7 linked regions of the Homo sapiens genome follow. The protein of the gene in region 3 purifies or fractionates together with the protein of the main gene of each other region. This does not show direct contact. Each region holds a gene or a part of one and is shown on either strand. Other genes may lie near its edges.

The links.
Region 1: the proteins of USP43 (region 3) and POLD1 purify together in Homo sapiens (affinity purification with mass spectrometry; one large-scale study listed by BioGRID and IntAct). This does not show direct contact.
Region 2: the proteins of USP43 (region 3) and ATG4A purify together in Homo sapiens (affinity purification with mass spectrometry; one large-scale study listed by BioGRID and IntAct). This does not show direct contact.
Region 4: the proteins of USP43 (region 3) and DDX11 purify together in Homo sapiens (affinity purification with mass spectrometry; one large-scale study listed by BioGRID and IntAct). This does not show direct contact.
Region 5: the proteins of USP43 (region 3) and ZEB1 purify together in Homo sapiens (affinity purification with western blotting; one study listed by BioGRID). This does not show direct contact.
Region 6: the proteins of USP43 (region 3) and FN3KRP purify together in Homo sapiens (affinity purification with mass spectrometry; one large-scale study listed by BioGRID and IntAct). This does not show direct contact.
Region 7: the proteins of USP43 (region 3) and TRIM56 purify together in Homo sapiens (affinity purification with mass spectrometry; one large-scale study listed by BioGRID and IntAct). This does not show direct contact.

Annotation. Positions count from the first base shown.
Region 1 is NC_000019.10:50,390,847-50,394,346, reverse strand, and holds part of POLD1 (DNA polymerase delta catalytic subunit), read right to left. Parts: intron 1-3,500. UniProt on the Homo sapiens protein: As the catalytic component of the trimeric (Pol-delta3 complex) and tetrameric DNA polymerase delta complexes (Pol-delta4 complex), plays a crucial role in high fidelity genome replication, including in lagging strand synthesis, and repair.
Region 2 is NC_000023.11:108,136,778-108,140,277, reverse strand, and holds part of ATG4A (cysteine protease ATG4A), read right to left. Parts: intron 3,188-3,500; coding exon 3,108-3,187; intron 2,475-3,107; coding exon 2,287-2,474; exon of another isoform or gene 2,201-2,286; intron 2,166-2,200; coding exon 2,087-2,165; intron 1-2,086. UniProt on the Homo sapiens protein: Cysteine protease that plays a key role in autophagy by mediating both proteolytic activation and delipidation of ATG8 family proteins.
Region 3 is NC_000017.11:9,652,017-9,655,516, forward strand, and holds part of USP43 (ubiquitin carboxyl-terminal hydrolase 43), read left to right. Parts: intron 1-3,500. UniProt on the Homo sapiens protein: May recognize and hydrolyze the peptide bond at the C-terminal Gly of ubiquitin. Involved in the processing of poly-ubiquitin precursors as well as that of ubiquitinated proteins.
Region 4 is NC_000012.12:31,083,860-31,087,359, reverse strand, and holds part of DDX11 (ATP-dependent DNA helicase DDX11), read right to left. Parts: coding exon 3,299-3,500; intron 2,778-3,298; coding exon 2,691-2,777; intron 2,392-2,690; coding exon 2,234-2,391; intron 2,228-2,233; exon of another isoform or gene 1,148-2,227; intron 1,135-1,147; exon of another isoform or gene 49-1,134; intron 1-48. UniProt on the Homo sapiens protein: DNA-dependent ATPase and ATP-dependent DNA helicase that participates in various functions in genomic stability, including DNA replication, DNA repair and heterochromatin organization as well as in ribosomal RNA synthesis.
Region 5 is NC_000010.11:31,507,716-31,511,215, reverse strand, and holds part of ZEB1 (zinc finger E-box-binding homeobox 1), read right to left. Parts: intron 544-3,500; coding exon 341-543; intron 1-340. UniProt on the Homo sapiens protein: Acts as a transcriptional repressor. Inhibits interleukin-2 (IL-2) gene expression. Enhances or represses the promoter activity of the ATP1A1 gene depending on the quantity of cDNA and on the cell type.
Region 6 is NC_000017.11:82,719,706-82,723,205, forward strand, and holds part of FN3KRP (ketosamine-3-kinase), read left to right. Parts: intron 1-566; coding exon 567-658; intron 659-3,098; coding exon 3,099-3,181; intron 3,182-3,500.
Region 7 is NC_000007.14:101,084,004-101,088,280, reverse strand, and holds the start of TRIM56 (E3 ubiquitin-protein ligase TRIM56), read right to left. Parts: upstream 2,801-4,277; 5' UTR 2,710-2,800; intron 1,276-2,709; 5' UTR 1,113-1,275; intron 970-1,112; 5' UTR 969-969; coding exon 1-968.

The sequences.
Region 1 (3,500 bases), on a different chromosome or scaffold from region 3:
ACACACCCCTCCAACCCTGCGTGTCCGGAGTGGCCACAGGCTGCCCAGCCAAAGGCTACATTTCCCAGTGTGCGCTGCCAGGAGGGCCACGTGACTAAGTTCTCCCTCCAGGAATGAGAGTGATCATGAGGTGTGCAGCTACTGGGACATCCTCCCACCCTCTTCCCCGTCACAGTGGCTGGAACATGGATGTAGTGGGAGAGCCAACCACAAGGACAGGGACAACACTGGGCTCCCCAACAACCTTCCAGAGCAAAGCTGTCTGCCAACCCTGCACACTTGCCTATCTTCCAAAGCGTTATGTGGAGAAATCAATTTGTATCTTTCTTGGGCCACTGTGTTTTGGGGGCTCCTTGGTACAACAGCTTAGACCTGAAATAAGCATGGAAAAATTCTGAACTGATGGAGTATATGTTAGAAATGTTCAGGGAGGTTCATAACAGACACTCAGCATTAGAGAGGGGCCAGCTCCTGACAGACATGCAACACGGATGAATCTTGAAAGCAGGCTGTGCAGAAGGCAAAGTGCACACTGGGGGAATGAGGAGTGACTGCTTACGGAGTATGGGGTTTTCTGTAGGGGTGATGAAATGTTTTGAAACTAGACAGAGGTAATGGTTGTACAACACTGTGAACGTACCAACTGAATTCTTTGCTTTATTATTACTTTCTCTCTTTATTGAGACAGGATCTCACTCTGTTGCCCAGGCTAGAGTGCAGTGGCATGATCTCAGCTCACTGCAGCCTTGACCTCCCGGGCTCAGGTGATCCTCCCACCTTGGCCTCCTGAGTAGTTATGAAGACAGATGCGTGCCACCATGCCTAGCCAATTGTTTTTTGGTAAAGACGGGTTTTGCCATGTTGCTGAGGCTGGTCTGAAACCCCTGGGCTCAAGTGATCTGCCTGCCTTGGCCTCCCCAAAGTGCTGGGATTACAGGTATGAACCACCACGCCCAGCCATTGTTTGCTTTAAAATGGCTAATTTTACCTCCATAAAAATTGTACAATACCATTTAGACAAAGTTGTAGAATACACTAAAGTGATCTACAGCGCTAGAAATCAGACTAGTGGCTGCTCCTAGGGTAGGAGAGACTGGGAAGGGTATGAGGGGGTTTCTGGGGTGATAAAACACACTATACAGCTGACTGTACACTGGAGACCTGGGCATGGCACGCCATGTAAATGCCACCTCAATTATAAACATAAAAGTTTGGAGGCTCAATTCCACATCTAGGGACGTACACTGTAGATATATTATCACATAAGAAAAACTGCATTTATAAGGTTATTTCCGGAAGCATCGTTTGAAATCCCCAAGGACTGGAAACCACCTAACTGTCCTCCCCCAGGGGGCTATTTAAATATGTTAAGTCCGTTCAATGGAATACTATGCAACTGTGTAAAGGAATGAGGAAGCTCTTTGTGTACTGATAGGGAAGGTTCTCAAAGAGGCATTGTTCAGTAGATAAAGCAAGATGCACAGTGGTGCACTCACAATTTTATCTTTTGTGTTGAAAAACAATGTCTAAGAAAACGTTTACCCTGATTCTAGTCATTAAGAAACAAACAGCCTGGGTGCAGTGGCTCACGCCTGTAATCCCAGCATTTTGGGAGGCCAAGGAGGGTGGATCACTTGAGGTCAAGAGTTCCAGACCAGCCTGACCAACATGGTGAAACCCCATCTCTACTAAAATACAAAAATTAGCCAGGCGTGGTGGTGGGTGCCTGTAATACCAGCTACTTGGGAGGCTGAGGCAGGAGAATCACTTGAACCTGGGAGGCAGAGGTTGCAGTGAGCTGCGATCACGCCACTGCACTCCAGCCTGGGTGACAGAGCAAGACTCTGTCTCAAAACAAAACAAGAAAAAGAAACAAACGAATCCAAGGTGAGGGGTGACAACACTGGTCTGTAATCTTTAAAACTGTCGATGTCATGAAAAAGTAAGTTGCCTGGGCTAGGAGGCTCACGTCTGTAATCCCAACACTTTGGGAGGCTGAGGTGGGATGATCACTTGAGGCCAGGAGTTAGAAACTAGCCTAGGCAACATGGTGAGACTCCATTTCTACAAAAAATTAAAAATTAGTCAATCTCTACAAAAAATTAAAAATTACTTAAGCATGGTGGTGCATACCTACAGTCCCAGCTACTTGGGAGACTGAGGTGGGAGGATCACTTGAACCTGGGAGGTGAAGGCTGCAGTGAGCCATGACTGCACCACTGCAATACAGTCTGGGCAAGAGAGCAAGACATGTCTTAAAAAATGAAAAAGTTGCCATGACAATGTGTGTTATCCTAGGTTAGAACTTGGATTAAAAAAGTAAAATGATGGGCCAGGTGCAGTGGCTCACGCCTGTAATCCTAGCACTTTGGGAGGCTGAGGCAGGCCGATCACCTGAGGTCAGGAGATTAAGACCAGCCTGGCCAACGTGGTGAAAACCCCGTCTATACTAAAAAAAATACAAAAATTAGCTTGTCATGGTGGCGGGCGCCTATAATCCCAGCTACTTGGGAGGCTGAGGCAGGAGAATCGCTTGAACCTGGGAGGCGGAGGTTGCAGTGAGCCAAGATTGCGCCATTGCACTCCAGCCCGGGCAACAAGAGCGGGGGAGTGGGAAAAAAAAAGACCTCTCCCTCTCCCTCCCCCTCCCCCTCCCCCCTCTCAGTCTCCCTCTGATGCCGAGCTGAGGCTGGACTGTGCTGCCGCCATCTCGGCTCACGGCAACCTCCCTGCCTGATTCTCCTGCCTCAGCCTGCTGAGTGCCTGGGATTGCAGGCACGCACCGCCATGCCTGACTGGTTTTTGTATTTTTTGGTGGAGACGGGGTTTCGCCGTGTTGGCCGGGCTGGTCTCCAGCTCCTGACCGCGAGTGATCTGCCCGCCTGGGCCTCCCGAGGTGCCGGGATTGCAGACGGAGTCTCGCTCACTCAGTGCTCAATGGTGCCCAGGCTGGAGTGCAGTGGCGTGATCTCGGCTCGCTACAACCTCCACCTCCCAGCCGCCTGCCTTGGCCTCCCAAAGTGCCGAGATTGCAGCCTCTGCCCGGCCGCCACCCCGTCTGGGAAGTGAGGAGCATCTCTGCCTGGCCGCCCAGTCTGGGAAGTGAGGAGCGCCTCTTCCCAGCCGCCATCCCGTCTAGGAAGTGAGGAGCGTCTCTGCCCGGCTGCTCATCGTCTGAGATGTGGGGAGCGCCTCTGCCCCGACGCCCCGTCTGGGATGTGAGGAGCGCCTCTGCCTGGCCGCCACCCCGTCTGGGAGGTGTACCCAGCAGCTCATTGAGAACGGGCCATGATGACGATGGCGGTTTTGTCGAATAGAAAAGGGGGAAATGGGAAAGGAAAGAGAGATCAGATTGTTGCTGTGTCTGTGTAGAAAGAAGTAGACATAGGAGACTCCATTTTGTTCTGTACTAAGAAAAATTCTGCCTTGGGATGCTGTTAATCTACGGCCTTACCCCCAACCCCGTGCTCTCTGAAACATGTGCTGTGTCCACTCAGGGT
Region 2 (3,500 bases), on a different chromosome or scaffold from region 3:
CCACATCTTTTTAATGAGTAGTCAAACTTCACAAAAGCTACTCTGACCCAGTGGCCTCAAGAAACAGGAGGGCTACATCAACTTGGAGAAATTCTCTGTAGGTAACTTGGGATAGGGAGGCCAGGGCACCCAGGAATCACACACACTATTCACTGAGATTCCTCCAAAGTTATTTTCTAATCTGTTTCAAAGCTGTCCTCAAACACTGTTGTGGACTGAATGTTTATGTCTCCCTAAAATTCATATGTTGAAATCCTAACCCCCAGTATGATGGTATTAGGAAGTGGGGTCTTTGGGAGGTGATTTAGTCATGAGGGTGGAGCCCCTATGAATGTATTAGTGCCCTCATAAAAGAGACTCCAGAAAGCTCCTTTGCCTCTTCTACCATTTGAGGACGCAGCAAGAAAACAGCCATCTATGAACCTGGAAGTGGGCTCTCACCAGACACCAAATCTGCCAGTGCCTGGATCTTGGACCTCCAGCCTCCAGAACAGTGAGACATAAATTTCTGTTGTTTATAAAGCCACCTAGTCTATACTATTCTGTTATAGCCGCCTGAAGAGACTAAGTCATGCATGAGCAACTGGAAATCTATTTTTTGCAACATTTTCTTTGAACCCAAATGCTTAGGAACAGAGGGCATCTGATTTTGCAGAACTCCAAACACTAGGTTTTATACTTAGAAAAATAAAAGCCTTTACAGGCTCCACGTTTTCCATTTAGCTGTAATTCTTGGGCTCAACCAATAGATGGCAGCATTAGAGAGAGCAGAGGCAGCTGTGCAATCCCCACGCCCCGCTCCACACCCCCCAACCTAAAGAGAGGAAGAAGGGGCTGGCAAAGGAAATAGGTATTGGGGTAAAGCAAGGTGCAGCCACCTTTCAGTGACTGTCCTATATGCCTGGCTCTTTGATGAACACTTTACTGTAAGATGACAACAGGGCGAGTCAGGCATTAGCCCTATTTTACATAAAAGGAACCTGAGACTGAATATTGATATCTTTTTCCTGAAGTCACACAGCTAGCAAGTGGGGGATTGGCATGCAAAGCCACGTGTGTCTGTTCCCATCCCACCTCACCTCCCTGAATGTCCAAGAGGAGATGTGTTGGGGAGGATAACTAAGGCCATCTCCACCCTGTCCTTTGCACGTGCCCTCATGCCATTCCCTTGTAACTCCTGTAGCTCTCCTTTGTCTGTCAACCAATCTGACCTCATAACTTTCCTGAGGCCAAGTCTCAGACCATTCCACCCCTGCAACAGGTGTCCTGTACCAACTTTTCCTGGCCACATCACTCTCTAACTTATGCTCTTCAACACTAACCAGGTGTTTAGGCCCTGGGTATGCAAAGTGTGGTCTGTGGACCAGCAGCATCAGCACCACCTAGTTAGAAATGCAGAAACTCAGGCCGCACCCAAGACCTACTGAACCTGCACTCCAATAGGCTCTCAAGGTGATTCATGTGCATGCTAAAGCTTCAGAAGCACTAGGCTAGCTTACCTTGTGTACCAAGGACCTCAGATGTCTCTGGTCACAGCTAGTGAGTAAAGAGACTGGGTTTCCAGAGGTGCCTTCCTATGCAGGGAATGTTGGGTTGCTTGCTCGGGTCCACATTAAGAGGTTAGTGGTTTTAAGGCTTAGCCCCCATTCTCGGGAAAGGGGTACTTCTGTCTTTGCCTCCTCCAATTCCCAACCTGTCACAGCTCTGAACAATGAGCCAGCAGGCCCTAATAAGAGAGATATTGGCAAAGCCAAGGGATTGAAATTCCACCACCCTGGGCCCCACAGGCAGGAGAGAGACATGCTGGAGCAATGCTATGACCTTGGGGCTATCCAGTGGGAAAGCAATGGAACCATCTTATCAAGAAGCAAGGAAGGCATTGAAATTGGACCTGCTTTCCATCAGGCACACAGAAACATCACTCTCCATCAGTTAGGCCGGAGACAGAAGGAGCTGACCAGAGGCCACGGCATTCCTGGGCTAGACGGGAACCCACTAACTGGAATTGCCTGGTCTCCCATGCAAACCTTGTCCCCACGCCCTCCCCTAGCCCACGATGACTTACTTGTGATTCCTCCTTTCTTACCTAAGAATCCTATGAAATAATACGCGTTATTTGGTTTTCCTCCTAATGCCCCTAAAGACTGTGGCATCTTAAAACACTCCTGGAGAGAAAGACAATGCAAGATTCTCAACTCACTTGTGGACTGCTGCTCACGGATCTCTGTGCTGAGATGGCGGTGTGATGGGCAGGCAGCAATGGGCTCAGGGAAAGAAGTGACTTACTTTGAATGCATCAACATAGACAGGATTGATTTGGTTTATGCCCAGGCGAAGGGGCACAATGAGCAGCAGGGGTTTCCAGGCTGAGCAGTAGGCAGAGGTGCCCTTACTCTGGTTTGAAGCAGTTAAAGAATCGGGAGGCCTGTCACCAGCTGTGTCAGCACTCAAGGGAAGGACACGGCACATTTTTTCTAGAAATGGAAGAACAGAATATTGGATAAGTAAGGAGTCTTCAGCCCTAGAAGATATTCCAATATCAAAACTAAGGGGAACCTCACATGCCCCCCACCCTGCCTAGAAGGCCCTCTCCTCTGCCACCAGGGCTCAGCTGACTCCCCGCCTGCACAAAGCCCAGGCCATTCCTCTAGGGCTCATGCTCTTCATTCTGGCCACTGGGTACTTGTTTAGCTCCCAATAGGGATTCTGGGCTTATTGGAAGAATCTCATTTCTCAAGTCTGCCAGGGCCTTTGAGACAGGGACTGTATCTTTAGGTTGCTCTCACTCCTCAGTGCAGGAATCACACGCCTGGACAAGGGTGAGCCTCCATGAAAGATCTGTTGGTGGTTGAATAAATTATTATACACACTTTGTGTTTTCTGCAGGGAAGGAGTGTGGTACCTCACTGAGGAGGAGCAAGGCCCCTCTAATGGTGTTCTCCCTCTCAGAAAGCTGAAAAGAAAGAGAATCAGAGCCCTGTGCTCCCCTAAGCTCCCCTGCCCTGGTGGGGAAGACCAGAGAGACTCTCTTGAGCCCCAGAATACTGAATGGTGAGGGAGGAACTCATCACCCATCAGCTGGGAAGTTAAACAGGCTGGTAACTCACTGATATCTTCAATGACCACTGTGTTATCCATTGAAACATAAACAGCCAAGGAATTCCATTCGTCAAATAAAGCAAGTTTTCTGCAAAGCAATGTATAATGAAGTCACAATTTGGGAAGATGGAAATATCAGCAGAAAACAGTACAATTTATGCCCAGTGTTCCTAAAGTCACCAAACACTGAGCCATAGAAAAGCTGGTGTTCAGGTCAGCTCTGGCTTCTTTGCCAGAGCTCTGGGATGCTCCATGTCTAGAGACCTTGAGAATGCCACAGAGTCACTGTATCTGAACCTCAAAAAGAAGTTTCTGCTTTACAACCTGGAGAAGTCTACTTCACAAAATGACGGGACACCTACTGGGGAAAAAAGAAAAGTTACCCATGCATCTGCTCTCAA
Region 3 (3,500 bases):
TGTTAAAAATTATCAATGTTTGGGAAATAAAACATACATACAGGTAGAGTTATGCCATGTTGAAGGAGAGAAATAACCAAATCTAGGGCTGAGCACAGTGGCTCATGCCTGTAATCCTAGCACTTTGAGAGGCCGAGATGGGAGGACCGCTTGAGGCCAGGAGTTCAGCCTGGTCAACACAGCAAGCCCTTAGCGCAAAAAAAAAAAAAAAAAGAAAAGAAAAGAAAGGAAAAAAAAGATGTGAGATAAGTAACCAAATATTACAGTTAATTCTTCCCAAGCTAGTTAACTGTTTGGGAACTGCTTTGTGCAGTTCTAGTTATGTTTCCATAGACTTTCTTTTTTTTTTTTCCTTCTTTTTTTGAGATGGAGTCTCGCTCTGTTGCCCAGGCTGGAGTGCAGTGGCACCATCTCGGCTCACTGCAAGCTCCGCCTCCCGGGTTCAAGTGATTCTTCTGTCTCAGCCTCCCGAGTAGCTGGGACTACAGGTGCCCGCCACCACGTCCGGCTAATTTTTTGTATTTTTAGTAGAGACGGGGTTTCACCTTGGTAGCCAGGATGGGTTCAATCTCCTGACCTCGTTTCCTGCCTGCCTTGGCTCCCCACAATGCTGGGATTATAGGTGTGAGCCACCACCCCTGGCCTGTTTCCATAGACTTTCTAGGGGAATGTCTTCTGTATTCATCAATAGGTTATTAAAAAAAAATTCCAAGAAATACCTGCCAAATACTTTATAACTGGAAAAAGACAAAGAACAATGTTCACTGTTAAAAAACTTTGTCATTTACAAATGAAAATAAAACAATTGCTCATGATCCCATTATTCTATGATAACCATTTGCTACTATTTTGCCATGTATTTTCTGCTCTTTTATTTTTCTATCTATAAATATATACATAAAACAATCTCAAATATGTATTTTTGCATTTTTTCTTCTATGACCGGATTATTATTTTCTTTATCATTTGTATTTCATCAGTCATAAATTTTAAGGCCATCTGAGTATGTCATAAGTTTTCACCCAGATAACTTTGATATATACAGACATCTCTGGTTGTATCTCTCATTTCCTAAGGCAAAATCACCAAAAGTGGAATTGCTGTTTATGGAGAGGGACATTTTTAAGGCCCTATCTTGTCTTGCTTCTTGAAGTTGTCACCTCCTTTCTGAAAAGGTTGTCAGGTACTATAGCCAGGCTAAGATGAAGAGTGTCAGGCTTAAAAGATCATCATGATTAACTGGAGAGGAATGGATTTCACATGGAAGGAAGAACAAAAGCAAAGGTCTAAGCCAAGTGCAGTGGCTTACACCTGTAATCCCAGCACTTTGGGAGGCCGAGGCGGGTGGATCACCTGAGGTCAGGAGTTCAAGACCAGCCTGGCCAACATGGCGAAACCCCATCTTTACTAAAAATTCAAAAATTAGCCAGGTGTGGTGGCAGGCCCCTGTAATCCCAGCTACTCAGGGGGCTGAGGCAGGAGAATCATTTGAACCCAGGAGACCAAGGTTGCAGTGAGCCAAGGTCGTGCCATTGCACTCCAGCTGGGCAACAAGAGCAAAACTCCATTTCAAAAAAAGAAAAAAAAAAAAAGTAAAGGTCTAGACTGTAGAAGTAGGAAAGAGTGTTTGGGGCAGCTAGGTGGATTACTTACCTGGAGCTTTGAAACATGGAATGATATGGTTTGGGGCTGAACGACAGAGGGTGCTTGGACTATTTGGTGGTGAGCAGGAGAGTAAGGAACGATTTGGAGTCAGAGCATGACAATATTCAGCTGAGCTATAGGAAAATTGGTCTGGTCTACCATGAAGTCAGTGGGTTGGCAAGGGGAGAACCTAGGGGCTGGGTCCCTCCTTAGGTAGATATTGTTGTCTGGGTCAGCTGTAGGTGAAACTCAACAGTTGGAATGAGACTCTTCTATAGGGGAAGGGTAGAGACATTTGGGAACCAGCATCCAGAATGCTTAACAGCTGACCGATATGAAGGAGAACCTGAAAGATGACACCTACATTAAAAGGATGAGCTGGTTTTAGAGATTTTGAGTTGGAAGGGCCGGCTGCTCACCCAGAAGAGAATGTTGGTACAAGAAGATAGGTTTGAGGGTTGTTTGGGGGTAGGGTTGCCAGATGAAAAATATTTACCATGCCCAGCTGACTTTTAATTGCAGATAAAAATTGAATAACTTTTTAGTGTAAATACGTCCCAAATATTGCATGGGACATATTTCTACTAAAAACATATTCATTGTTTATGTGAAATTCAAATCTATCTGAGCATCTTGTATTTTTATTTACTAAATCTGGTAGCCCTACTTGGGAATCAACATGCAGAGAAGCCTGGGGGAAGAATCCAAACTAATGTGATTGACGTAAAGACTCAGAGCCACACTTGGGGAAGCCGAGGCGGGCGGGATCACCTGAAATCAGGAGTTCGAGATCAGCCTGGACAACATGGTGAAACCTCATCTCTACTGAAAATACAAACATTAGCTGGGTGTGGTGGCAGGTGCCTGTAATCCCAGCTACTTGGGAGGCTGAGGCAGGAGAATCACTTGAACCCATAGGTGGAGATTGCAGTGAGCTGAGATCATGCCATTGCACTCTAGCCTGGGCAACAAGAGTGAAACACTGTCTTAAAAAAAAAAAAAAAAAGACTCAGAACCAGCATTTCAGTTAATTAAATCTTGCATTTTTGCTTTGTCTCATCCTAAAATCTCCTTTATTTTTAGTTTTATTTTTTTGAGACAGAGTCTCACTGTGTCACCCAGGCTGGAGTACAGTGGTGCAATCTCTCCTCACTGCAACCTCTACCTCCCGGGTTCAAGCGATTCTCCTGCCTCAGTCTCCCAAGTAGCTGGGGTTTCAGATGTGCACCACCACGCCCAGCTAATTTTTGTATTTGTAGTATAGGCAGGGTTTCACTATATTGGCTTGGCTGGTGTCGAACTCCTGACTTAAAGTGATCCATCCGCCTCGGCCTCCCAAATTGTTGGGATTACAGGCATGAGCCACTGCACCTGGCCTCTAAAGTCTCCTTTAAATCTCAAGGGAAAATTAAAAGAAAGAAAGGAAAAAAAAAAAAAAAAAAAAAAAAAAGCCCAGACTGCCTGATTTGATTGGCAGTGGTAAGGATTGTCCTGGTCCTCAGTCTTATTAAAACCAGTCCCTTTGGCAGGCATGAACAGAGAACAGACCTGTGTGGGACGAGACTGGAGACTTGGCTCTGCAGTCTAAGAGTGGGTCCCACGGCCATCACGTGCTGTGTGCATGTGCATGTGTGGACACACAGACAAGTGATTTGCTTACACCCAGATGCCCACATGCTCACACATGTATAGCAAAAGTCCCTGGAGAGATGCTGAAGGAACTGCTAAAAGTGGCTGTCCCCTGAGAAGGGGTACCACGGGATGAAGGCCAGGTAGAAGGAAGACTTCATTATCATCCTTTTCTTATTGAATTATTGTTTTTTAGTATGTGCATATATTACTCTTTGCAATAAACT
Region 4 (3,500 bases), on a different chromosome or scaffold from region 3:
GGGAGGACCCAGGTCGGCCTTGTTTCTGCTGAGTCCCCGTGGCCTCACCTAGAGCTTGGTATGCAGCAGGAACCCCATGACCATCTCCTGGATGAAGCTACAACTGACCAATCGAGTGAACAGAGGATGCTGTCACTTATGACCAGCTACAACTCTTCTTGTGTCAGTGCCTCAGTCTGCCCTTCCCAGCAATGCGGGAAGAATCCATCAGCGCCAGGCGTTGGCAGGGAAGCCAGCCCTGCATCCCATGGCCTGAAGCTGAGCTAGCTCTACTAGTCTATGCTCCTCAGAAAACACAAAACCATCTGACAGGCACACGCTACCTATGGCAACATCACATAAAAAGAAAACATTTTTGTTCACCTCGAAATTCCTTTCTAACAAAACAGAATACAATTGTCTTGGGCTATCAGAAGAGTAATTATTACAGGCTTGGCTTCATGGTCACTAAAGAGCAGGCGGCTCTATCTTAAAAGGCTTGGATTCAATCTTATGTCGCATGCTGGACAAAGCCAGCAGGAGCTCACTGAGAGGCTGGGTGTGTGAAGAAATGAAGAGCAAAAATTTTCTATTCAGAACTCAGGTCCTCCGAGGCTCACGTTATCTCCTGAAACGTGAGGGCATGGGAAGCCCCAGAAGCTGACCTACAGGATCCATGGCTCTTGCCCAGACCTGAAGGAGCACTTTGTTCCTTTAATATTCACCACCTCCATCTCCACTCAAGTTCTCTGCCTTGTCCCCACGGGCTCTAAGGGAGAAGAGAGGGAGCAGAAACATGACCTCGGAGGCGGGCAGGAAGGGTTCATGGAGCACAAACTGTTTATGACCCCCTCTCACCAGCGAGGCATAAAGCAACACGGTGGTCTCTGCCCTGGGCAGGGGCAGAAGTCGAAGTTCACATGCGCAGCCTGGAATTACACTACCAGACTGCAACGAGGCAGCATCTGCTCATTCATGTCAACTCGATTTTATTGAGCACACCCCTATGCCAAACACTGGGTCAGCTCTGGGAACATCAAACTATAAAGACGTGGTTCCTGCCCTGAAGCAGCTCGAGCCCAGCCAGGGAGAGGAGGCAACAACAGAAGCACAAGCAGGTGCATGAGCAAAACAGAGCAGCTGACACCCGAAGCCACCAAGACGACACCTGAGCCAGGCCTTAAAGGAGAGGAAGACATCTGCCAAGGGAGGAGGGCAGGGTGTTTGGCCACAGCACGTTGCATGAGCAAATCCTCAGACAGGACAGAGGAAGGCCTGGTGCGCTGGAGGAAGTTCAGGGCAGCGGGGAAGCTGGCGTCTGGTGGATGGCGGCTGGAGGTGGCATCAGAAGGCGCCCTGCAGACAGACTGTGAAGGCCGGGGATGAACCTTCAGGAATATCCATGGAGGGTCTCTGGTCTTGCAGTTACCCTCCGACAGATGTGGTGGCCAGGATGTCACAGGACACACGGGACTCATCATCAGGTGCAGCCCCCCACCCCATCCACATCACCATTTTGTTTTCCTTGTAGGCAAACATGCTGACTTCACATAGGTGCTATTTGTTTTCATGTCTATTAACTGTCCCCTCCATGTCTTCTTCCCTTCTATGTCCACAGCATCTGGACAGTGCCATACTCAGAGCAGACACTCAGGGATGGTGGTGAGGTTCCAGTGTGAATGGGAACAGGGCTGTGACCAGGGATCCTGTGGGCCCGAAATGGCCTGGGTGGCCTGCTCAGGGCTAAGTCACCCAGCAGCTCATGGCTCATCAAGTGGAAACCTTGAGTCTGGACCAACAGAGGCTTTATGGGAGAAGGAAAGCTCAGGCTAAGGACGCCTTGATGGTTGGCACCTCACAGGTTACCCAGTGCAGTCAGCTGCCTCAGAGCCTGAGATCTAGAGCCAGGCCAGCTGAGTTCTAGCCCAGCTCTCCACTGCCGAGGCTTGTGGCCTCAGCCAAGGAGTCTCTCCTTGTGGGGCTGCAGCCTCCTTGTGTATAAGGCGCAGACACAAATGTTCCTGCCCTGCCTGAGCTGCCGTGAGGACAGCTGAGAGGACACAGGCCAGGCCGGTGACTGTCCTCACTGCCACTGGCACTCATGGACCCTAGGAAGGACCCGGCTTAGAGCAGAGGGCAGAGGCCACCATGCCTCTTGCCAGGTGCTTCATGGCATCTGTGGCATGAGGGAAAGAGCTGTCTTCAAGGGTGTCCCCTGGCCTGGGGCAGGGTAGTGCTACCGCCTCTGTCTCACCTGCTCGCCACCTTTTTCTCCTCATCACTCTCGTATTCGGCGAGGACCAGCTCCTCCTCCCCAGACTCCAGCTGCTCCAGCCGCTCAGCCTCCGGGCCTGTCTCTAGCATCTCCCTGCTGAGGCGGAGGAGATTCTCTCTTTCTTCTTCTTCCTGCCTCTGGACAGGGGTAGTGGAGGTGGTGAGGGAGGAAGAAGTCTCAGCACCAGTACCCACCTCCCCACATGCCAGAGACAAAGCACACCACGCCCCATTCACATAGGCCTGGCTGCCTGGCTGGAGAGAGGTCGACTCCTAGGATCCACGCCTCAACCACTCACAGCCCAGCTTCTGTACGGGAGCACATAGCCAGTGAGGGTCACGGAGGGGAGACCAAGGCCCTGACCACGCACCCATGAGCCTCCAAGCAGAGCAACCCTGCCTGGACATAATCCTGCCCCCCAAGAAATGAGGCTCACCAGGCGCTTGGCTGCATACTTGAGCTGCACCCTGTGCTGCAGCTGCTGCAGGCGTTCTTCTCGCTGCTTCCTCCTGGCCTGCTCCGCCTACAGGAGGCAGACATGAAGGAAAATCACCAAGGAAGCCCAAAACCAGGCCTCTCCTAAGGAGTCTGGGCCACTCAGCCCGGCGCCTCCTCACTGGGGGCATCTCTCCTTCCCCGGCCAGCACTCAAGGGCTGCCGCATCCCCTCCCGGGACCTCATCCCTGCCGGTCCCAGCCTCGCTGCTCACTGCGGAAGGCGGCACACTCCTCCCAAAGCCACACGCTCTCCATCAGATCCATTTGCAGCCATTGAACCATGCTGCCAATGGCAATGATCAGGTCCTTTCCCAGGTGAGTAATAAATGGGCACCAACAGTTCCTTATGTGGAGAAGGCCTGCTGACCTCCAGCTCAAAAAAGACAGCACAGCGGCAGCACCATAGACCCAAGGAGCTGAGGGAAGAGCTGAGAGGCACGGCAACGGCAGGGGAGCATGCACTGCCTGAGTCTCGGAATCGCCCCAGAACAATCGCTGAAGCCCTGTTTCCTCCAGTACTCCCACTTCCGGATACCCCAGGTCTCACCTTTAGTCGGTCCACCAGGTCCCTCTCTTCTTTCTTCTGCACAAACTGAGTAACCCAGGCCGGTTCTCCAGCAGGCCTCGGGGTGCCTGCAGCCCCTTCGCAGGAAGAAGACAGACACAGGGATTCATCTTTCTCATCATGTAAGGGGCCAGTTCCAGTTTCAAGGAGTCGTGCCTCTTCTTCACGCTTCTTCTGTTCAAAG
Region 5 (3,500 bases), on a different chromosome or scaffold from region 3:
TTTTCCTACACTGAACATTTTAATAGAATGCAATTTAACATCTTCTAAACTTGAAGAATTAACTGTTATGGCATAAGCAAAATAATTAAGTCAAGATGGAAAGGGTCTTACCTGAACAAAATACTGAGTTACCTCTAAAGTAACGTTCATATGTGGTTTTTAATCTCAGGAATGACCAGATAACTCAAATAAATAATCATTTTCACTTTTATAAGGCTGCAGATATAGCACTGTTTAGTACATTCTTTTAACTTTCAAATATATTAAAATCCTTGCCTTCCATTGAGGGCTGAGTTGTCAAAATCTGGAAAGTTAGTGAACTCTCAGTCATTGCACTTACTTGATCTCTTCCTGATTTATGTGATGTCATGTGACGTTCAAGTTGGGTTCTGTATGCAAAGGTGTAACTGCACAGGGAGCAACTAAAGTTATCTTCATTCTTTTCATGACGATATTTAATGTGTTCTTTCAGAGAGGTAAAGCGTTTATAGCCTCTATCACAATATGGACAGGTGAGTAATTGTGAAAATGCATCTGGTGTTCCTGTAAAAGAAAGATCATATATTTTAAATTTAAAACATTCAGAAAATATTACCAAAGTTTCCACTGAGTCCCTATGCTATGTTCCAGATATTGTGCTACCCACTTTATATTTGATCCTCAAAACAATGCAATGATACTCATCTCTATTTTATAAGAGAGAGAACAGTGGTTTCCAGGAAGGTTAAATAACTTAAAAGAAAAGTCACAGAGCCAGAAAATGATGAAGTCAGGGTTCAAATACGGGCTGTCTGACCTTCAAGTCCCATTCTTTTTCCCTAAACCATAATTCTTCCCTTTTGTCATGTGATTAGCTAGAAAAGAAAACAAAAGTAAAATTAGAATGTAGGTTGTCTTTGTAAGTGTATACAGATTAAAGGGGAATTTTGTGCTCTACAACAGAGTCTATTGGTAACAATGGTATGTATCATTATTTATTTAATGTTTATTCCTCTGATTTTGAAAATGAAACTACCAAGTCATCATCATCAAAGAGTAAACAGTACACACACACTATGTTTCCAAGAGTCCCTTGCAGGTAGGTGTGGCCATAGGACTGAGTTCAGACCAAAAAAATAGTGTGTAAGGTGGGGAAGGAAAGACTGATGGGGGCCAGATCTAGGCCTGCTACATAAACACATCCCATGCATGACCCTGCTTGTAATTTCCCCTATTGAAATACACTGGCAAATCTGCTATATAACTGTATATGTATGAATATATATAGCTTTTAGAAAACAAAGGCATTCTGAATAAATTAGTTTACTGAATGAACTTTATTTTTACACTTGGAGCTGTCTAAGCCTGACAATCCTAAAATGTAATATTTTGCCAATTAATATTATTTAACTAAGAGTAGTTTTCCATATTTGACATTTCTTCAATGAAATAAATTAAGTGATATCTTTTTGTAAACATCATCTCTATTTTCATTTTGAATTCACTATAGAAAAACAAACCACCACAGATAATTTCATAAAATCTCCAAGTGCTTTCTGAACATATATTCCTTTATTCAAGTCCATATAAATCAAATGTCTTGCTCAAGGACCAGACTGCAAATAATAGACTGAGCACCTGAATGTTAAATAGTTGGTCAAATATGTTGAGAGAGGGGCTTCAAGATGGCTGAATAGAGGCATCTGGTACTCACCTCCTCTACAAGGAAAAACCAAAATAATGAGGTAATAATCACACTTCACATAGATCATCTAAGAGAGAACACTGGAATTCAACAGAAAAGTGACAGGAAACACCTCAAGTAAGGAAGAAGGAAGTAAAGCAACCTGCAAAGGCTCTCCAATGCAGGGAAAGAGTAAGTGAGAGACCCCCAGGGGTCCACATTCCCACCATGGACTCCTGCAATCCTAGCCATGGGAGAACCCCTGGACCATCGTGGGCTCTGAGACTAACACAGGGAGGTATGTGGAGACCACATGACAATGCTGCTCCGGAGAGGGAGCTTATGCTGAATCTGTACACCCCCTGAGTTCTAAGTAGCTACAGCACAGCACTATTTTGAGAGCCCAACCCCCAACAGACTACATCCTGTTGAGCCCCACTGACATACCTCCCTTCCCAGTCATCACTAATGCTGGTTGCGGCTGCTAAGGCTGAAGTGCAAGCCATTGGCAGTGACCATACCTCCTCCCAGCAGAGGAGCTGCACACATTTTTACATGCCCCAAGGACAGACTCCCCAACAGACTGCTGCCACTGTGGGCTTCCACCGCTGGGGACAAAGTGCTAGCCACTGGCAGCGACCCTAATTTCCTCAGCAGCTGAGCTGCTAAGCATTTATAAGGGACCTGAGGACAGGCTACCCCATCCACAGCCGCTGTCTGGGGCTAAAGCGCACATTTCCCAGCTCCCTCCCTATGGCTGCTGCCACCAAGAGCAACCTTGCCCTCCCCAGTAAGAAGGCCACAGTGCAACCACTGATGTCCTTACCTGAGCACTCTGCTGGTGGCCTGGGATCATCCTGCCCCTGCCATGATAGCCAATGCCTACACACACCACCAAGGGGCCTGAGGACAGGTCCATCTGGCCCAGCTTACCTCCTCCCCAGTTTCCGAGCATGCTATTCAGGGACGTGGGGATGACCCAGCCCAGTCCAACACTGTTGTCACCTGAACACTCCTCCTGGAGGCCTGAGGTTGGGTCCACCCAACCTGCTACTATCACTACAGCTGGCACCCTCCTGCATGCACCACCGGTAGGCCTGGGGACTGACTCACCCAGCCCATTGCAGTCACTGCCAACACCAGCGTGAATCACTAGGGAACCAGAGGGTGTCCTGCCACTGCTACTGCCATTGCCCAAGTGACATCCACTGCCCAGGAGCCTGAGAACCTGCCCACCTGCCCAGCTTACCACTGCCACTACCAGCACCCAAGCAAGCCACCTGGAGTTCCAAGGATCAGCCCAACTGGACCTGCTAACACAAGGTGTCAATGTGCCACCCTGTGGTCTAAGGACAGGTACTGTAAGCCCGTTACTACCACTGCTAGGGCCCAAGGAATGGTCCACCTGGCATCCCTGTCCCAGCCAAACTTCACCTCAGCCTCCACTAACAATTGCACCTAAGCCAACGAGGAAATCACGGACCCTACTCACACTATTTATAACGAAAGATATCATACAGAAATTACACTACCACATGTACCCAGAATCAAAGCCAAAGTGCCCTACTCAACCAATGAAAGCAAATCCAAAAAACCAGAATAATTGACTATTATACCAGATGTGTGGTATCAAGGTAAGAATACAAGAAACATGAAAAAGGAAGGAAATATGACACCTCCAAAAAATACAATAATTATCCAGCAACAGATTCCAATCAAAATAAATTTATGAAATCCTGGAAAATGATTAAAAATAATGATCTTATAAAAGCTAAGTGAGATAGAAGAAAACAGAAAAGCAACACAAAGGAACCAGAAAAACAAATCAGGATATGAA
Region 6 (3,500 bases), about 73 Mb from region 3:
GATCGCACCACTGCACTCTAGCCTGGGCAGTAGAGCGAGACTCAGTCTCAAAAAAGAGGAAAAAAAAACCACTGCAAACTTGGATGAGGCTGGGAAAGATCGTCAAATAATCAACACCTTTATCCCCCTCTTGCTTCACCAGAACCTACTTTCTGTCCTCAAAATGTCCGACCTACTAGCCGGCTGTGGTGGCTCACGCCTCTAATCCCGGCACTTTGGGAGGCCAAGGTGGGCGGATGACTTGAGGTCAGAGTTTGAGACCAGTCTGGCCAACACAGTGAAACCCTGCCTCTACTAAAAATACAAAAAAATTAGCCAGGCATGGTGGCGGGCACCAGTAATCCCAGCTACTCGGGAGGCTGAGGCAGGAGAATCGCTTGAACCTGGGAGGCGGAGCTTGCAGTGAGCCGAGATCGTGCCACTGCCCTCCAGCCTGGGTGACAGAGCGAGACTCCATCTCAAAAAAATAAAAAAGTTTGACCCTCTTTATGTGCCCTGAGACTGAGCAGTGGGTGTGTTGCCATTCTGTGTGTCATCTGTTTAGTTGCTGTCGTTTGATTTGACAGTCATGCTGCAAAGCTTGGAGCCCAGCTGGCCGATTTACACCTTGATAACAAGAAGCTTGGAGAGATGCGCCTGAAGGAGGCGGGCACAGTGGGTATGGCACTGCGCGGGCCACGGGTGCTCCCGCCTAGAGGAGGACGTTCAGCCGGTGTGGGCTCAGAGCGGGGGCCGTGCAGCAGCCGTGGGAGGGTCGGACGTGGGCTGATGGCAGAGCAAGGGAATGTCGGCCTTGAGCCGCATCTCACGGTGCACTGAACACAGTGACTGTGATGCGTCTGTTGTGTCCTAAATGCATTTGAAAGATGAAAACATTTGCTGGACACAAGACACCCCTAGTGTTACAGTTACTTTTACCTCTCGTTCCCCAGAAGAGTGTAAGCAGAGGCTCTCTGGCTGTCTGTAAAAGGCAAGACCTTTAACCCAGGGTCTGTTCCTGTAAAACAGTCATACTTGAGGCTCAGAATTACAGCCATCATGTCTGACCTTTCCAGAGCATAACGCGCTGTCAGGATCGAGGGAATTTTCCGGTATTTTAATCTGCTGACATTTGGAATCCGTGTGCAGCCCACATGGTAAATGTGGGGAGATTTGCTGATGATCGGAACAGATCACCAGGGGCCTGCTGTAGGAGACGGAGACATGCTGTTAGTCTGTTCTGTGAGGGTCCATGACGGATCCACCCAGGCGGCCTGTGTGGTGAGGATCCACTGAGAGGCCTCCCAGGTCGCCTGTCCTGTCTCTTCCAGTCTTAACGGAGTTTAGTCCATTGGGATTTTCCTTGAATTAGGGAGACTGCAGAGGAGTGAGATTCTTTCTTTCTTTCTTTCTTTTTTTTGAGACGGAGTTTCACTCTTGTCCCCCAGGCTGGAGGGCAGTGGTGCAATCTTGGCTCACCGTGACCTCTGCCTCCTGGGTTCAAGCGATTTTCCTGCCTCAGCCTCCTGAGTAGCTGGGATTACAGGTGCATGCCACTGTGCCCACCTAATTTTTGTATTTTTAGTAGAGACGGGGTTTCACCATGTAGGCCAGGCTGGTCTCAATCTCCTGACCTCAGGTGATCCACCCACCTCAGCCTCCCAAAGTGCTGGGATTACAGGCGTGAGCCACTGCACCCTGCCTGAGATTATTTCAAAGCACAATAGTTTATCTGACACACATGGCACCAGGTTTGCCACTGAGAGCCATCCTTTCTGATGGATTGGGGGCAGATTCTTTTTCCTCTTTATTTATTTATTTTTATTTTATTTTTTTGAGAAGGAGTCTTGCTTTGTTCCCCAGGCTGGAGTGCAGTGGCATGATCTCTGCTCACTGCAAGCTCCGCCTCCCGGGTCCACGCCATTCTCCTGCCTCAGCCTCCTAAGTAGCTGGGACTACAGGCGCCTGCCACCACGCCTGGCTAATTTTTTGTATTTTTAGTAGAGACAGGGTTTCACCGTGTTAGCCGGGATGGTCTCGACTTCCTGACCTCGTGATCCACCTGCCTCGGCCTCCCAAAGTGCTGGGATTACAGGCATGAGCTACTGGGCCTGGCCTGTTTTTTACTTTTTATGTTTTTTATGTTTTGTTTTGTTTTGTTTTTTTTGAAATGGAGTTTTGCTCTTGTTGCCCAGGCTGGAGTGCAGTGGCGCGATCTCAGCTCACCGCAACCTCCGCCTCCTGGGTTCAAGTGATTCTCCTGCCTCAGCCTTCTGAGTAGCTGGGATTACAGGCATGCGCCACCATGCCCAGCTAATTTTGTATTTGTAGTAGAGATGGGGTTTCTCCATGTTGGTCAGGCTGGTCTCAAATTCCCGACCTCAGGTGATCCACCTGCCTTGGCCTCCCAAAGTGCTGGGATTACAGGCATGAACCACTGTGCCCGGCCATTTTTATGGTTTTTTTTGAGACGGAGTTTCACTCTCGTTGCCCAGGCTGGAGTGCAATGGAGCGATCTCGGCTCACTGCAACCTCCGCCTCCCGGGTTCAAGTGATTCTCCTGCCTCAACCTCCCGAGTAGCTGGGATTATAGGCGCCTGCCACCATGCCTAGCTAATTTTTATATGTTCAGTAGAGACAGGGTTTCACCACGTTGGGCAGGCTGGTCTCGAACTGCTGACCTCCGGTGATCCGCCCACCTCAGCCTCCCAAAGTGCCTTTCCTCTTTAAGAACATCCTCCCCTTTGTTTCCTGACACAGTGTGGTCTTCCCCCACACCCCCGCGTGTTGGGATGTGAGACAGGTCCCCTGAGAGGTGCCCGCAGGCTGCCTGTCCTGTGTGTGTCCTCTGGTGCCCCTGCTCGGGAGCAGCTAGTGTCTTTGATGCTGACGTCTGCTGGAGGCCACAGGCTCCTAGTGTTTTTGATGCTGACATCTGCTGGAGCAGGCTCTGTTAGGGGTGTTGTGTGAGCTGGTGGAGACCCAGGCCCTGTTTGTCTCTGGCAGGGGCATAAGCTGGTAGGAGCTCGCTGAGGTCGTGTCTGAAGGTGACTCAGTTTCGAGAGTGGGCGCTGGGATCCCTTGGAACTAATTTCCTTTCTTTTACTTTTGCTTGCAAGGGAGAGGAGGTGGGCAGGAGGAACGGCCCTTTGTGGCCCGGTTTGGATTTGACGTGGTGACGTGCTGTGGATACCTCCCCCAGGTGAGTGCACGGCGTTTGCTTCTATTTCACAATCAGGTCAGCTGTTCAGACACACGGGTTGGGGGGACACACCCCCCTCCTTTTTTTGTGAGCTTCAGTAAAAGTATTTGCACCATTTTTTCTTTGCTGATGTTTGAGAGGTTGACGTAAGATTGACCCACCTAATATGCTAGGTAAGCATGAAGAAACTGAGGAGGACCAGCAAGTTAGGAGCTGGATTTCAAGGTGGGTAAAAATGAGGGAATTTAACAAATGTTTTAGGTATACTAAACTCTCAAAGAGGGTGGAATGACAAGGGTTTGTCACTTTTGGTTGTGTG
Region 7 (4,277 bases), on a different chromosome or scaffold from region 3:
GAGAGGATCTCGGCCTCTCGCCCCAGGCTGAGTACCCGGCGGGCGAAGGCGGCTGCGGCCCTGGCCACCTGCTCCCGGCCCTCAAGCTCCGCCAGCCTCTCCCGAGCAGCTTCTTCGGCAGCCTCCACGTGGGCTCGTAGCTGCCCCAGCACCTCCTGCTTCTGGGCCAGCAGGGCCCGGAGGACGCCCTCAGCCGCCTCCTCCACCTGAGTCCCCACCCGGGCCGCCTGCTCCCGCAGCCGGGCTAGCGCCTCCTTCTCCACCCTCCGCGCTGCCTCCAGCTCCACCAGGTTATTGTCCACACCGGCCAGCAGTCCCTCCAGGCCCGGCCTCCGGGCACGCACAGCTTCAGCCAGAGGCAGGCAGGGGTGGTCCAGGTGGGGGTCTAGGCGGCACTCTCTGCACAGCAACTGTGAGCAGGGCTGGCACAGGAAGCGCAGTGCCTCCCCGGGGTGCTGGGGACACTGGGCCGCTTGGCGCTCCCGGGCCTCCTCATCATACCACCCGGCCCTGTAGCCCACCAGGTCCACCACGCGGTGGGTGTGGGTCTGGCGGGTGCAGCGGTGCCCGTCGGCACAGGCCTGGCACAAGTCATCGGCACAGTCCAGGCACCGGGCCGTGGCCGGCCCCCCGGTGCTGGTGCCACCCACCAGGGGACACAGGGCACAGGCTGGCTTCCCGGCACGCAGGTCTCCACAGGCCCGGGCCTTCACCAGGTCCAGCAGCCCATTGACGAAGAAGTTGGTCTTGAAGGAGGCCACACCCTCGGGCGGCACAGGCACTGTCTCGCGGCACTCGGGGCAGCGGACGCGGCCGCCATCCGCCAGCTGTGCCAGGCAGTCTTGGCAGTAGGTATGCAGGCAGGGCAGTGTCTTGGGTGCCCGCAGCTGCTCCAGGCAGATTTTACAGGCCAGGAAGTCGCTGCTCAGGGCCTCCAGGAGGGAGGGCGAGGACCCGTGGGAAACCATGCTGCAGGCAGAGGCGTCAGGATCAGAGTTGAGAAGGCACCTTCACCAGCTCACCCTCTAGCTTCTACCGCCCGTCCTCAAGCCCCACGGATCCCCAGGGCTAGGGGCTGACCCAAATGGCCGGGAAGGAACCTGAGGTCTCACCTGAATGGCCAGGAACTTCCTTCTAGTCTTCTGAGGCCTTGGGCCACTTGCTCTTGAGCTAAGGAGCTGCCCTCCTCCTTCTCCTCCTCCTCCTCCACTTCCGTGTGTACATCCAGCAAACGTAAAAATGTCAGTGCTACTTGTTGGGTCAGACCTGTGAGAACTGACAAGACCAGGAGTCCCTGGCCTTAGCTAATAATCGAATCCTCAGTGTCCCCAGTCCACAGGCCTTGTGGCAAACATGGTGGAAGCCCTCCTGTGTGCACAGGTACTGGGGTCCTGCTGTATAGGGTGCCAGGGTGCGAGGAGCAGGCAGTAAGGACACAGACGGGGATCCCAGTGGGCAGAGATGCCTAGGTCCTGCCAGTTGGGGTAGGATCTTGCAGTAGCTTAGGGGGCTTTAATCCTCCAAGCCCCATACACCTGCCTTCTTTTTATTTTATTTTAGTTTTTAGCAATAGGGTCACCCTCTGTCACCCAGGCTGGAGTGCAGTGGCGTGATCGTAGTTCACTGCAGCCTCAAACTCCTAGACTCAAGTCTTTTGAGTAGTTGGGAGTACAGGCATGTGCCACCATGCCCAGCCTTTTTTTTTTTTTTTTTTTTTTTTGAGACAGAGTCTCACTCTGTTGCCCAGGCTGGAGTGCAGTGGTGCGATCTTGGCTCACTGCCACCTCCACCTGCCAGGTTCAAGTGATTCTCCTGCCTCAGCCTCCCGAGTAGCTGTGATTACAGGTGCGCACCATCACACCCGGCTAATTTTTGTATGTTTAGTAGAAATGGAGTTTGGCCCTATTGGCCAGGCTGGTCTTGAACTCCTGACCTCAGGTGATCCGCCCTCCTCGGTCTCCCAAAGTGCTGGGATTATAGGCGTGAGCCACCATGCCCAGGGGCCCAGCCAGCCCATTTTTTAAAAATTATCACTTTTTGTAGAGATGGGGTCTTGCTATGTTGCCCAGGCTGGTCTCCAACTCCTGGCCTCAGGCTATCCTCCCGTCTCGGCCTTCCCAAAGCATTAGGATTACAGGCATGAGCCACCGCACCCGCCTGGCCTTACACCTGTCTTCTGCTAGACCTGGGGCAGCATCGCGGGTGGTGGAGGCCCCACTTTCTGCATTTAACAGTTTCTAAAGCGGATTCTGGAGCGGGCAGAAAAAACGCTAGGGGAAGGGCTGGTCCCCTTCCCGCTGCTGGCTCACCCTCTGATAGACTTGGCCTTGGCTTATCTCCTGGAGTCCTGTTCTTTTAGCTTTTCCTGCTGAATGCATTCCAGAAACCTCTGGAGGGAGGGAGTCCCGAGCTCCTGGCACAGTGGCTGAGACCTACTTGTTGGGCAGACTAGGTGGAATGTCCCCTTTTCTGGAGCTGGGAGGAGACCTCAGAGAGTGGGACGGGGTCTTTCTTGCGGGGACCTGTGGCCACGGAGCGGGAGGGAGGCGAGTGCAGTTTCCCTCCTGCCCTCTCCTCCTGCCTTCCGGGTGCCTCTTCACGCCCTCCCTTTCCTTCCCTTCCTCCTCCTCCCGCGCTCTCTCTCCACTCCCCTCCCCCTACTCCCTCCGCTCGGTCCTTCCTATAGCTGTGCCGCCCCCCACCCCTTACCTAGCCAGAGCTGATCTTGACCTCTAGGATGGTGAGGGGGCCTGAGGCCTGGAGGCCGCCGTTGCTGGGTGCCTGGAAAAGAAACAAAACTGAAACTAATTGTACTTGTGGTGCAACTTCCGTCCCAGCCAGGGACACACCGACTCGCCTCGCACAGCCTCAGGCCCCGCCTTCCTCCCCACCCGGCCCCGTCCTCTCCCGCCAAGGCCCCCACCCCGGCAGGCAGCTGGCAGGCTTGGGCTGGAGTCCACCAGCCAGGTCGGCCTGTCAGTCCAGCCTCAGGGCTAAGTGTGTGTATGTCACAAACAGGGAACTACCTGAGGGCGGGTTCTCTGAGTAGAGGGTGGAGGGTCACAGGGTTTATTTGTGGGAAGAAATGAGAGCTCATCTGTGATTCAGAGACCAGGGTAACTAGACACATGGCCTCAGGGCGGGTCTGCAGATTTGCTAACACCTCAGGCAGGCAGGTGCCTGCAAAGCTTCAAGAGAGGCCTTTCATTCCATAAACCGTTGCTGAGCTGTAGGAGAGGCTGTGGGGGATCAGGTAAGAAGCCTCTTGCTGAGGGAACAGCACAGGCTTCCTGGAGAAGGCATCAATGAGATGAGTTTAAAGAAGGCGGGAGGATTGCTTCAGCCCAGGAGTTCAAGACCAGCTTGGGCAATATGGTGAGACCCAGTCTCCATAAAAAATTCGCTAGCCGTGCATGGTAGCGCATACCTGTAATCCCAGATACTCAGGAGACTGAGGCAGGAGAATCACTTGAACCTGGGAGGTCGAGGCTGCAGTGAGCCATGATGGTGACACTGCACTCCAGCCTGGATGACAGAGCAAGACCCTGTCTAAAAAATAAAACAGTAAGAGGGCATAGAGGGCTGGAGAACACTGAGAAGAATGTTCCTGTTCCAGGTACTGGGAGCAGCAAGGGTACATCCCCATTTAGGATGATGTGTGTGGAGAGGATACGAGAGTGTTGGCAGAGAAGCCTGCATTTTATCAAAAAAGACAAAAGAATCATTGCAGGAGATTTCCCTCAACATTTCATGAAAAAATAATTTTTATTTTGAGACAAAGCCTCGCTCTGTCGCCCAGGCTGGAGTGCAGTGGTGTGATCTTAGCTCACAGCAACCTCCGCTTCCCGGGTTCAAGCGATCCTCCTGCCTCAGCCTCCAAAGTAGCTGGGATTACGGGCACTCACTGCCACGCCCAGCTAATTTTTGTATTTTTAGTAGAGATGGGGTTTCACTATGTTGGCCAGGCTGGTCTCGAACTTCTGACCTCAAGTGATCCACCCACCTTGGCCTCCCAAAGTGCTGGGATTACAGGCGTGAGCCAACATGCACAGCCTCATTTTATGAAAAATTCAAAGCACAAAGAAGTTGAAAGAATTGCGGTGAACACCCATATCTCCACCACTTCTGTTCTACAATTATCATTTTACCGTAATTAATTCATGACATACCTATGCATGTTTGTACCTTTTTATCCACATGGCGGAATTTAAGTAGGAAACTGAAGCTGTAAGAGCTCACTCTGGCAGCAGCCGAGAGGACAGAAGGGAGCCTGACCT